Linked DNA regions of Homo sapiens: region 2 is linked to region 1. The links come from fine-mapping of genetic effects on gene expression. A gene starts in region 1. The other region holds a variant in brackets. All regions are shown on one strand. Distances are from middle to middle.

The links. PIP is the estimated chance that this variant, and not a neighbour inherited with it, causes the effect. A credible set is the group of variants that fine-mapping cannot tell apart.
Region 2: its variant is the best candidate, but not a certain one, in a credible set for the expression of PAUPAR in cerebellar hemisphere (GTEx, PIP 0.75).

Annotation. Positions count from the first base shown.
Region 1 is chr11:31,824,205-31,829,582 of GRCh38, reverse strand. PAUPAR (PAX6 upstream antisense RNA) reads right to left here and starts at 3,016. Exons shown (of 1, transcript NR_117094.1): 1 at 280-3,016. The region is part of intron 1 of PAX6-AS1 (PAX6 antisense RNA 1); the gene reads right to left. RefSeq lists an enhancer at 2,343-3,767.
Region 2 is chr11:31,984,659-31,990,036 of GRCh38, reverse strand. No RefSeq gene overlaps it. Among named protein-coding and RNA genes, the nearest start is that of LINC03031, 54 kb to the left of the region's middle. RefSeq lists an enhancer at 2,589-3,089. The variant T/A (reference allele first, on the strand shown) is at 2,298.

The DNA of each region.
Region 1 (5,378 bases):
AGTGAACCCCAAAGCTTCAAGTAACCTCATATGGAGTCGGAGATGTGTACTGATGTTGCCTCCAGTCTCATTTTGTTTGTAAGCCTACAGATAGATTTGAGGGAGGCTTTGAACAACATCTTTATATTCTCTGTGCTTGAGTTCCTCTAAATTGAATGGCATTTGCCATTCACTTTCATCGTGGAATTGAGGGGAAGTAGCTACAATGGGATTTGTAAAAAAGATTTTTGAGCAGATTGTAAGGAGAGAACAGTGAGTCATAAAGTAGCCATTCTTTACTCTTTTAAGCAGTAATTTATATTTATTGAAATTCATAGTGCACACATAAGCTATGGGAAGACAGCAAGGGAAGCAGAGCATAGGTGAGTGTTCTAATAGAAACACAGAATAAGAAAACAGAATAATATTAGCTGAAAAATTCAAGTTCCTTGCATCAAAAAATTTAGGATCACAAGCAATATTATAGGCAATTCTGAAAATATTTTCTTTTTTCTACTCTGATGCATTTTGTTGGCATTTGTTGTATTAAAATCTCAGCAAATGCTTTATTAAAATGAATTTGGTATAAACAAAACAAAATTTTTCAGCCTATTTGTCACAATTGTAGAATGTTGGATTTTTAAAAAAGGACTTAAGGATGCCCAAAATATTTTATTTAAAATGCTCCTTACATGACACTCTGGGGACTGTTGTGGGATGGGGGGAGGGGAGGGATAGCATTAGGAGATATACCTAATGCTAAATGACGAGTTAATGGGTGCATCACACCAACATGGCACAAGTATACACATGTAACAAACCTGCACATTGTGCACATGTACCCTAAAACTTAAAGTATAATAAAATAAAATAAAATAAAATAAAATAAAATAAAATGCTCCTTACACTATAGGTGAATTGGGCAGAGAAATAAACACATTTTAGGTGGTCTTCCTAGAGCATCCAGGCCCTAAAATAACCTCAACTGACATTAACAGGGAGGTATCTTAAAATAAACTATAATTTACTGTCATTTTAACAACAACGACAGAGTTGAAACGAATGTTTGTATGCCATATTTGTGCCTAGAAATATTTTCAGACTATAAAACCATGCGTACATCAATATTTGGGAAATGTTTGTTTCTTTAAAAAAAACGGATATTCAGAGATGCTTTATGCCTCCTGGCAATTTTTGCTTCTTTTTGGATGAAAAGACGCTATACTATTTGTACTACATACAGAAACCGAGGAAACCTTGACGCTATTTGCCTCCTAATTTTAGTTTCTTTGAAGTCTGCATTCTGTTCCAATATATCAGCCTTGTATTAAACACCAAAACAGGAAAAGAAAGAAACCCCTATATCAAATACACAGAAGAGATAAACAAGGTGTTAATTTTTTCAAATATTATTTCTAGAGTTTTGCATACTACCTGCACACGCTCCACAGCAGGGAGGGGCGTTAAGAAGAGGTAAGCCTGGAGCACAGTGAAATGTGACCTTGCCACAACCCCATCAAAGGTCTGTTTGATTGATTTTTCTTCCCTGCAAACGATCGGAAAGTAGCAGTGACAGAACAAGTCCTTAAAATTCGACAATCACTAGGGCATACTTCATTTCATCACACAAATAGGGAGTTGAAAGGTCGCCACTAGTTCTATGGGTTTCCTCAGCAAGACAGACTCTTTAACACCCAAGTTTTGAAAGTATGAACTACAGTATTCCACAGATGATTGTGCCTGGTGTTTAAAAGGCCCCTGCAGAGGTCTAGTCAAAATATTTACATTCCTCTCTGAAACTGTAATGCAAAGGAAAAGGGAAAAATCGTGAGAGGACAAATCAAAAGAAAAACTTTCCTTCCCCGGCAACAAGAAAAGGTGTCAGGCCGCTGGGTCTTCTGCAGACAGCCCTGTTCTCTTGGTGTAGATCAGGTGCCCATCACACACTTTTCCAACGGACGTACATCTATAGCAAGGTGCATTAGCTGCATTCCGTGTCAAAATTAGGGCTGTATCCATTTCTGAACACATGTGGTTAACAGAAAGCCTCATCATCCCGCCGTAAGTGGGTGTGTTTAATTGTCCATGCGTGTTCCCCGAGGCGCTCCATGGACGCTGCAAATAGATGGGTGAGTGATGGGCACATATATTTTCTCCATAAAGTGCAGCCACTGGCTCAAAGTGAGGCAGACTCTGGCAAGGAAGAGAGTTCGAGGCTGGGTGGCGGCGAGGATGGGATGGGGGTGGGGAGGAGGAGCAGGAGGGGGCGATGATTAGCGAAGGAAATGACCCAACTCCCTCCCTTCTGTTTTCACAATCTGCGTCACACTCCTGTACGCTCCCGGCCCGCGGCGGGCGAGCGGGCGGCCGCGAACGCCGGGTCAGGCCGGGCACCAGCCTGGCGGTCGCCTCCCAAGCTCCGGGTCCGCCAGCCGCTCGGCTGCCCGCTGTAGGCCCCCTAAAGAAGCCGAGGTGGGCACTCGGCCTGGCGCCTGGGGGCCGAGCCCACGACCAGCAGAACTTCTCCCAACCCAGCGCCTCTCGACGTGGGACCGGCTGGGCTCACTGGGCTCGGGGCTCCGGTCGGCGAGGAGGCGCCGGGAGCGGGGAGTGGAGACTCTTTGGTCTCCCGGGCTGTGGCGGTGCAACTCCCGCCGCCTGCGTTCTAGACAGAAAAGCCCCTTCTGACCATGCATTAGTAGTACTACTCCATTATTCCTGTTAGAACAAGTTAAAAGTAAGGGTTGAGCCCAAAGGCCCCAGGAGGGGGGTCATGTGCGCCCCAGTCACTCAGGCTCCCCTCGCTTCTCCGGTTCGAGTTATGCCATCAAGCTAATATATTGTGACTGCTCTTCTCTCCTGTGACAAAGGCTTGCAGCTGCCTCCAAATCAATAGATGTCAAAGAAATATGAAAACAATCATGACACAAAACTTAAATCCTGGCTGGAGCCTACATAATCAGAAATGTGCTACTGTTCTTCAAGCCACCGATTAATTTATCCCAAACTTTAGTCAAATTTTTATTCCGGTACCTTTTTCCCAGCAGATCCTGCTACGTCTGTCGGGTTTGTAATGTAATTTGTAATTACTGCCCTTCATGTGGTCCGGTGCCTTGAACCATCTTTAATTAAAAGCATAATTAAGGGAAGATCTAAAGAAAGACAATTACCAGATGGTCTTTTTTTTAGAGGCGGTAGTTGCGCAGAGAGGGGCTCGGGGTCTGTCCCCGGGACCCCACGCCTTGGGAGGGGGCGGCGGGCCCGAACGGCGCCTGCGCACTGAGGAGGCCTTGGCCTGGCTTGCACCCCGGGTCCCTCCCTCACCCCACCGGGCCACACCCCGCCACACCCCGCCCTGGCCCTGAGGCTCCACCGAGGCCGCGCCCAGAGGTGAGCGCCAGCGTCCCCGCCGTGCAAAGAGACTCTGGCTTTCTTCGCTTTTCCCCGGGGGGTAGCGGGATGTGGGGGTGAGTCCCCAGCAGGGAGGCTGGGAGAAGATCAAGGCCGAGGCAACTTTCAAATCTGCGAAGGGGCCCCCGATCCGGGCCCATCCCGCCCTGCACGCGAGCCTGAGAGCTCTGAAGCAGAAAGAAGGAAAGGATGCGAGGGCTGGAAGGGAGACGAAGGAATGAGAGAAGAGCGTTTGCCCCGCCAGATGACAGCCTTGGGAGGAGGCCCTGGCCTAGGTCCTCCCTGACTGGGACTGACTAGGGTGGGAGCTGGGGGATCCTAGCCCTGCGGGCCTGGGAACCCCTGGGACAAAAAGACAGCCGGGGAGCGCCGTCGACCGCAGCCCCGTCGGTCAAAGTGGCCCCTTGACAGCTATTCTCTCGGCTTTCGGTTCCTCGGTGTCCATTGGTCCCCGGGATTTTCAGAATAAGTTCGGGGGAGGGGAAGAAACCCACTCTCCACTCCTATCCCATCCCCACGTCCCCGAAATGAATAATGCAGGCAGGAGCCAAGATTTCTGCATTAGCGCCACGTTGCCCCGGCGGCTGGCGCTAGGATCCCGAAGTCGGATAATGGAAATTAAACTGTTGTTGTGTGGCGGGGATGTCATTATGTGACTGTTCATATTCAAAGTCAGGCAGCAATGAATTGTAATCATTTCAATTATCTTCAATACACTTTCTTTAGGACACAAGTTGTCAAGGATAAAAAAAAAAAGTACATTCTTGCGGCTCCGTGGGTCCATTTTCCAGATGGTTTGTTACTCTTGCTGCCTGATTTAGTTTCGGCTTTTATTCCCCAGCCTCAGATTCTCTTGCAGAGACTCCGCCGGAGTGAGCGGCTTCTCTGGCGCTGCGGGCCGGCTACGCTGGTCGGCAATCGGCCTCCGTGGGCCTGGCGTGCGCATTTTGGTTGCTTTCAGGTATAATTAACTTTGAACAACAAATATGCCTGGAGCTCTGGATCTAGTGTCCCCTTGGGGAAGGGGGCCGTCGTATTATACTCTGCGTCCTTCCCAGCCTGGGGCGGGGTGGGGGCTGGCTGCAGCAGCTGCACCCACTCCCCAGGCCAGCGCTGCGCGTCAGAAAAGCATGTGCTGGGCTGTACCCACTCCTCCGACAGAGCCCGGACCCTCTCCTTCCAACCCAGAGAACTCAGGGAAAAGCCGGGATCCCCGGAGCCTGCCGTCCTTTGTTGAAATTACCCTCTGCCCAATGTTCGCTCCCTCCTGTGCCTGAACGTGGGGCTGCGACAAGTTGGATGTGGTGTCCTTGAAGTATCCCTTCGAGCGCCCTCCGCCCCCAGACTGGGCAAAAAGAGTAGGGGTCGCCTTTGAAGCCCAAGTCCGCGGCTCCTATTTGGACTAATCCCGATCTTTACACTAATATCGCCTCTCGGGTTTTCATTATACTCATTTGGGAGGAAATGAGCTTTTGCTGGGCAAATAGCACCCTGCACCCCACTTCTCATAGCTGTGCAGGCCCGGGGCCTGAACAACCCCGCAGGCAATCCGGGAGCTGCCGATATTATATTTGTGAAATGTCCTTTTGTTGAGGCTTTTAACACCTTCTTATAACGAATCATTTGTTCTTTTCTCTTTAATTTTGATAGACAATTAGCCATCAGAGATACACCAGTTGACTGTAACCGAGCATTAAACTCGCCTTTATGTAACGCTAATTTAGCATAGCTGCTTTGTTTAACTTTGCTATATAAGAACCAGGTTTTGTAGCAAAAAAAAAAAGGTGTAATTTTATGTGGGGCTTCATTTCTTTTGGCCCTGTACACAGCTAGCCCTCTCCTCTTTGTGAAGCGTTCTGCTGGGGCCTGACGCCATTTCCCGTGCCTAGCACCTGCAGGCTGGGGGGAGAGAGGGAATTAGCATTGATATAGATTTAGTTGAAATGTAATCTCTTAAATCTGTCCAAGATTCGGGGAGATAATTACAC
Region 2 (5,378 bases), 160 kb before region 1:
AGTCTTGGGTGCTAGACTTAAGCCAAAAGCAGCCCCAAAATTTAAGGAATTGGGCTACCTATTTTGCAGGGAGATGGCCCCAAAAGGTGATACCTCTTCCCCTCAAAAACACCATCATGCTTCTCTGCTCCTCTGTTGCCTGAGAGTGTCCCAAAGTCTCCAGGAAGACACTTAGGACTCTGTGAGTGTGAAATTAACTAGGGATGTGGGCAAATATTTAGAGATTCATTGTGGCATTATTTAAAATAATGCTCCATCATAGGGGATCAGTTAATTAAATTGTGATGCACAGATACAATGAATAATATAGAGTTATTTAAGATAATATTGCCAAAATATGTCTGCCAGTAAGGAAAGTTTATCATGGAATATTATTATAACACAGTATGTAATGATCCCTTTTAAATTATATATAAATATATATAGTATATGCATAGAAAAGACTCTAGAAGCATCTATATTGACATGTTGTATTAGTTGAATCTGAACAGGTTTAAGGGTGTTTTTTAAGGGCTCATTTTGCCTATATGTTCTAATAGAAGACTGTTTTAGAAAATTTAAGGTGAATTGAACATATTTACTCAGAGTTAGACATGAATAATTTGCTTCCCCCCTGCCAAAAGGATGGCTAGGTTCAGACAAAAAATTATCGAATATTAGGATTCACATGCTCAGATGCCACATAAATCAGCAGTCACTGTTGCTCCTAACCCTTTATTATTATTTTATCACCTTCAGAGCACTCATCACCAACCACTTCATATGTTTTGGTTACTTGATTGCACTCTGAAGCCCCACTAGGAAACTATAAGTTCCTGAGAGTAGGGACTTTGATCTGTTCACTTTCTTGCAAAGAATATATGCTTAGTACATATTTGTTGAATCACACATTTGTTAAAATAATAAACATGACGCAGCTCTTCCATAAAAGACAAATCTTCCTCTTCCACTCTTGCCCCTCCACTTCCCCTTCACTTTCTCTTCACCCCCATCATCATCTTCCATTCATATTGTTTAGCACCCTAAGCACCATGGAGTATGGCAGGTGACCTTCGACGTCGGGGTTTGTAATACACATCTCTTGTGCTGTGCAATGATTTCCTGTATATAACGTTTTCTCCTGTTTTCCTCTTTTTAGTCTTCAAGGTTGTGGCAGCTGCTTGGCTACTGAAGGAGAGCAGAGTGCTGAGCTTTTGGGGTGGGGCGCAGGGTAGGTGGTCAGGTTCCAGGAGTAAAGAAAGGCTCAGCTGCTACTTATCATAAGCCTTGCAGGTGGGGATTGTGAGCCCGGAGCCTCAGATGGGAAAATGAGGTGTGGTAAAGCTTGGTGACTCCCACTAAACCCCTAGAATGTTGATAGGCCTCTCTTTGGGGCCCTGAGGCACCCCCTACCATTCCACCCATGCTTGTCTGATTCCCACTGGGCCATCAACTCCTGAAGGCACAGTCTAGGTTTGGTCACTTTTTTAGTCCCAGAGCCTAGCACAGCGCCTGACACATAGCAGCCACTCAGTGAACATTTGTGAACTCAACTGCCTAAAGTAGCATAGCCAAAATGCTAAGTGGTAAAATGTTAACGAAAGCCCATGCCTTCTGATTATCTTTGCTTGAGATGAAATCCTGGAATGATCCACTTTTAATGTAATGAATGCAGCCACCTCCCTACCTCCGGCCTCTTTATTTTCTTGTTTCCCTGTTCTCAGTCTACTTTCTGTTACCACCCTGCCTTCCCACCAGCCACTCTTCTAGCCAGTCCCTTCGTGAACTTTTACCATTTTGAAAATGGCCTTTGTTATAACGGATGGTTCTGGACAACATCAAAAGACATTTGCAAACTGAGTCTCTTTCAGGACCAGGAGAGTGTGGGGAATCCAGGGATTTCCCAATGTTGTGGTGAAATGTTCCAAAAAGCTGCAGCATCTTTGGGCCTGTTCATCCACGTTTGAAGAAGAATGCAGGAGAGTGGGGATGGGGAGCAAGCTGAAATTTTAAGGGGCCACAGAAACCCAGCGAGTAACCATAAAGCCCTAGAAAAGTAAGCTTTGAATAAAATAATTAGCTAGCAGTTATGTTTTATTATGTGCCAGGCATTGTGTTAAACACTTCACATAGAACTTTCTATTTAATCCTCCTAGCAACCCTAGGGCACAGCGCTTATTATACCCATCTTACAGAAGACAAAACAGAGGTCCAGAGAAGTCAAGCGACTTCCCTAATACCACACAGCTGGTTGGTTTTTGAGCTGTTATTAGAACCCAGGTTTATCTGTCTCAGGGACCAGTTATCCGTGCTTTGGT[T/A]TGCCCCCGGAGGGCGGAGCCAAACAAACGGCAGCCTGGCTGGTAAAGAACTGACATTTCAAGCACACAGGTGAAGTGGCTAGACCCAGACTGGCCCCGAGGCGGCGGGAGGGCCTTACAGCGGACCCCTCTTCCCAGCGCCCCCAGCCCCGCGCCCGCCACCCCGGGGCTGGCGCTGTCCGCGGTGCCGCCGGGCGGCGGATCCGGACTCGGCGCGCGGGGCGCGGGCGGAGGGACTGGGCGCGCAGCTGCCGCCGTTTCTGCTTCGCAGAGCAGATGGCGTCGGCGGGGGGCGGCCATTTGACGTTCGTAGCACTTTCCTTCGCGCATATGTTGCGGGCGGGGACGACCTCTAGCCCGCTGTGGCGGCGGGTTTCCAGCCCTAGACGCGCGGTTCCCCCCGGATCCGGCTCAGAACCCTAGCTCGGGCCCACGTCGGTGGACGAGGGGAGCTGGCACCGTCCCATCGGGTAATGACGTGCGTATTTCCCATCCTCACCATTGGCCTACAAGAATGGCCTTAGTCCCATTTTACAGCTGGAAAACTGAGGTATAAGAAGGAGCTGACCAGCAGTGGGGCTGGGACTCGAACCCAGAGTCGGCTGACTTCTGCCTGAGCACCTGGCGCTACTTGGTGACCAGCGTGTCTCCAGCCTGAGGGTCCCATCAAAAGCAAGTGAACTTTCTCGATCTTGCTTGTCTGTGTCCCAAAAACGTTCTTCCTTCTGTAGGGCCTTTGCATATGATGTTCTTTGAACCATCTCCCCAATCCCCACAGCCCGTTTCCTCCAAGGTCTCCTTTAGATCTTAGATCAGGGTCATCTCCTCAGGAAGCCTCCCTGGAATGCACCATAGCCCCAAAGATGGCGAGGATCATTTGATTAATGTGAGTGATCCTCCCCCCAAACTGTAAGTTCCATGAGGGCAGGGAGTGGGTGTGCTTTTCTGTTCAGCATTCTATTCCCCGTGCATAATAAGCACTCGAGAAATAGTTGTGAATGAATGAGTAGTTAAATGAATGAATGAATGAATGAATGAATGAATGAACAGAGTTTTCTGAAGGAGCACCTGCTTCCTCACTATCCAATGATCAGCTGTTTGGGGGTGGAGGGAAGGCTGTTTGGGAATCCTGGGCCTTCTCAACCGCAACTTTTTATTCATTAAGCCTACGCTATGGCTGTTTCCAGGCTCCTCCACCCCCGCCATTGCCCTGTGACTGGAGGCCAAGCCCTGCCCTCCTGTTGACAGAGTGGAGTCTTCCTTATGCTGATGAATGAAGTGACCGTTAATAAGATGAAACCAGGCCAGAAAAAGCCAAATGAGGAAGCTGGCAGCTTTGTAAGTGGTTTTTCAGGGGGAAAAGTGAGAAAATGGACACTAAAATGGATCCTTTAAGTTGCTTTTCTGACCTGCTTAGCGGGAGAGCTGGAGATTCCAGGCCATTGGAGGGCTTCCCAGATGGAAAGAGTTCAGATGCAACAAATATTTACTGACGCCTACTAGGTGCCAAGGGCTCCTTGGGGCTCGATGACAAACAGCTCGGAGGATGCTTGGCACTCTCAAGCCTCATTTGAGCCTCCCCAAAACTCTGAGAACAGAGGTTCATTGCCTCTGTTCTTCAGAAAAGGGAACTGGCTCAGGGGGTCAAATGGCCTGCTGAAGATCACCCTGCCAAAATTTTATCGTGGAAGAGTTTTCATTGCTTTTTGAAAAATCCGAATGTGATATTTTTGTGATTAAAGAAAAAAGTATCTTAAATTTGTTGATACTTGACTTGCAGCTTGATCATGTGGCTGCTTTTACACCATCTCCCTGACTGGAAAAATTATCTCCTCTTTGAGAGGTCTCAGATTGACAGAGCTCGAGCTCCCTCATTTACTGAATCCAGTAACTCTTTCAGTTCAGTGACAAGACTAATAGCAATAAGTCCTTAATAAGACTAATAGCTATAGCTTATGAGTCCTCATTACTTATTGACTAAGTAGTAACACTAAATTAATGTTGAGTACTTTATATGCATGAGCTCATTTAAACCTCACAACCCCAATGAAACAGGCATAATTTCTGTCCCAATTTTGCAGATGAAGAAACTGAGAGTCCAAGAAGTTAAGTAACTTTGTCAGGATCAAGAGCTAGTGAGTAACAAAGCTAGGATTCAAACCCAGGTAGTTAACTGCTATACATTGCCATATTAATGGTTTTCAGGCTGTTCTCTGAGGGACCTCAGGGTTCTATTTACCCAGAAGTGGAGGAGCTGGAAGCACAGAGACATTTAGCTGGGCAAGCCTGAAAGCCTAGTCCACCCAACCAGGACAGCTCTGCTCTTATCTCCTAAAGTGAATCTGCTACATCTTGTCGGACGAAGAGTACCCAGTGCTAAAAAAAAAAACATTAAACATATTATAAGTTGAGAACAGACAACACTCTTGGTCCCACAGTTGGTTGCATGGCTGTGCTGCTAGCAGGGTAGTAGCACCTGGAGGCTGAGCCTTGTCTCTTCTATGCATCACCCCACAGTGCCCAGCCCTGTGTCTCAGTAAATGCCACCCCCATTGGATGAAACATATCAGAGTGTATTGCAGTGGCTGTTCCACTGTACTTTACTCTTCACATCTTCCGGAACTTCCAAGGGTACCTGCAGCCATGCAGAGAAGACCCTCCTGGATCCACCTCCAGCTGGTGGACATGGAGAGGAAGGACTCTGTGCAGGTCAAAAGAGAGACTTAGTGGGCTGTGCCTGGTGGCTCAACACCTGGGAGGCATAATCCCAGCACTTTGGGAGGCCAAGGCAGGCAGGTCACTTGACATCAGGAGTTCAAGAGCATCCTGGCCAACATGGTGAAACCCCATCTCTACTAAAACTCCAAAAATTAGCTGGGTGTGGTGGCAGGTACCTGTAATCCTAGCTACTCAGGAGACTGAGGCAGGAGAATCGCTAGAACCCAGGAGACAGAGGCTGCAGTGAGCAGAGATCATGCCACTGCACTCCAGCTTGGGCAATAGAATGAGACTCCATCTCACAAAAAAAAAAAAAAAAAAAAAAAAAAGAGGGAGAGATTTAGTGGAAGTGGCCTGAGGGCA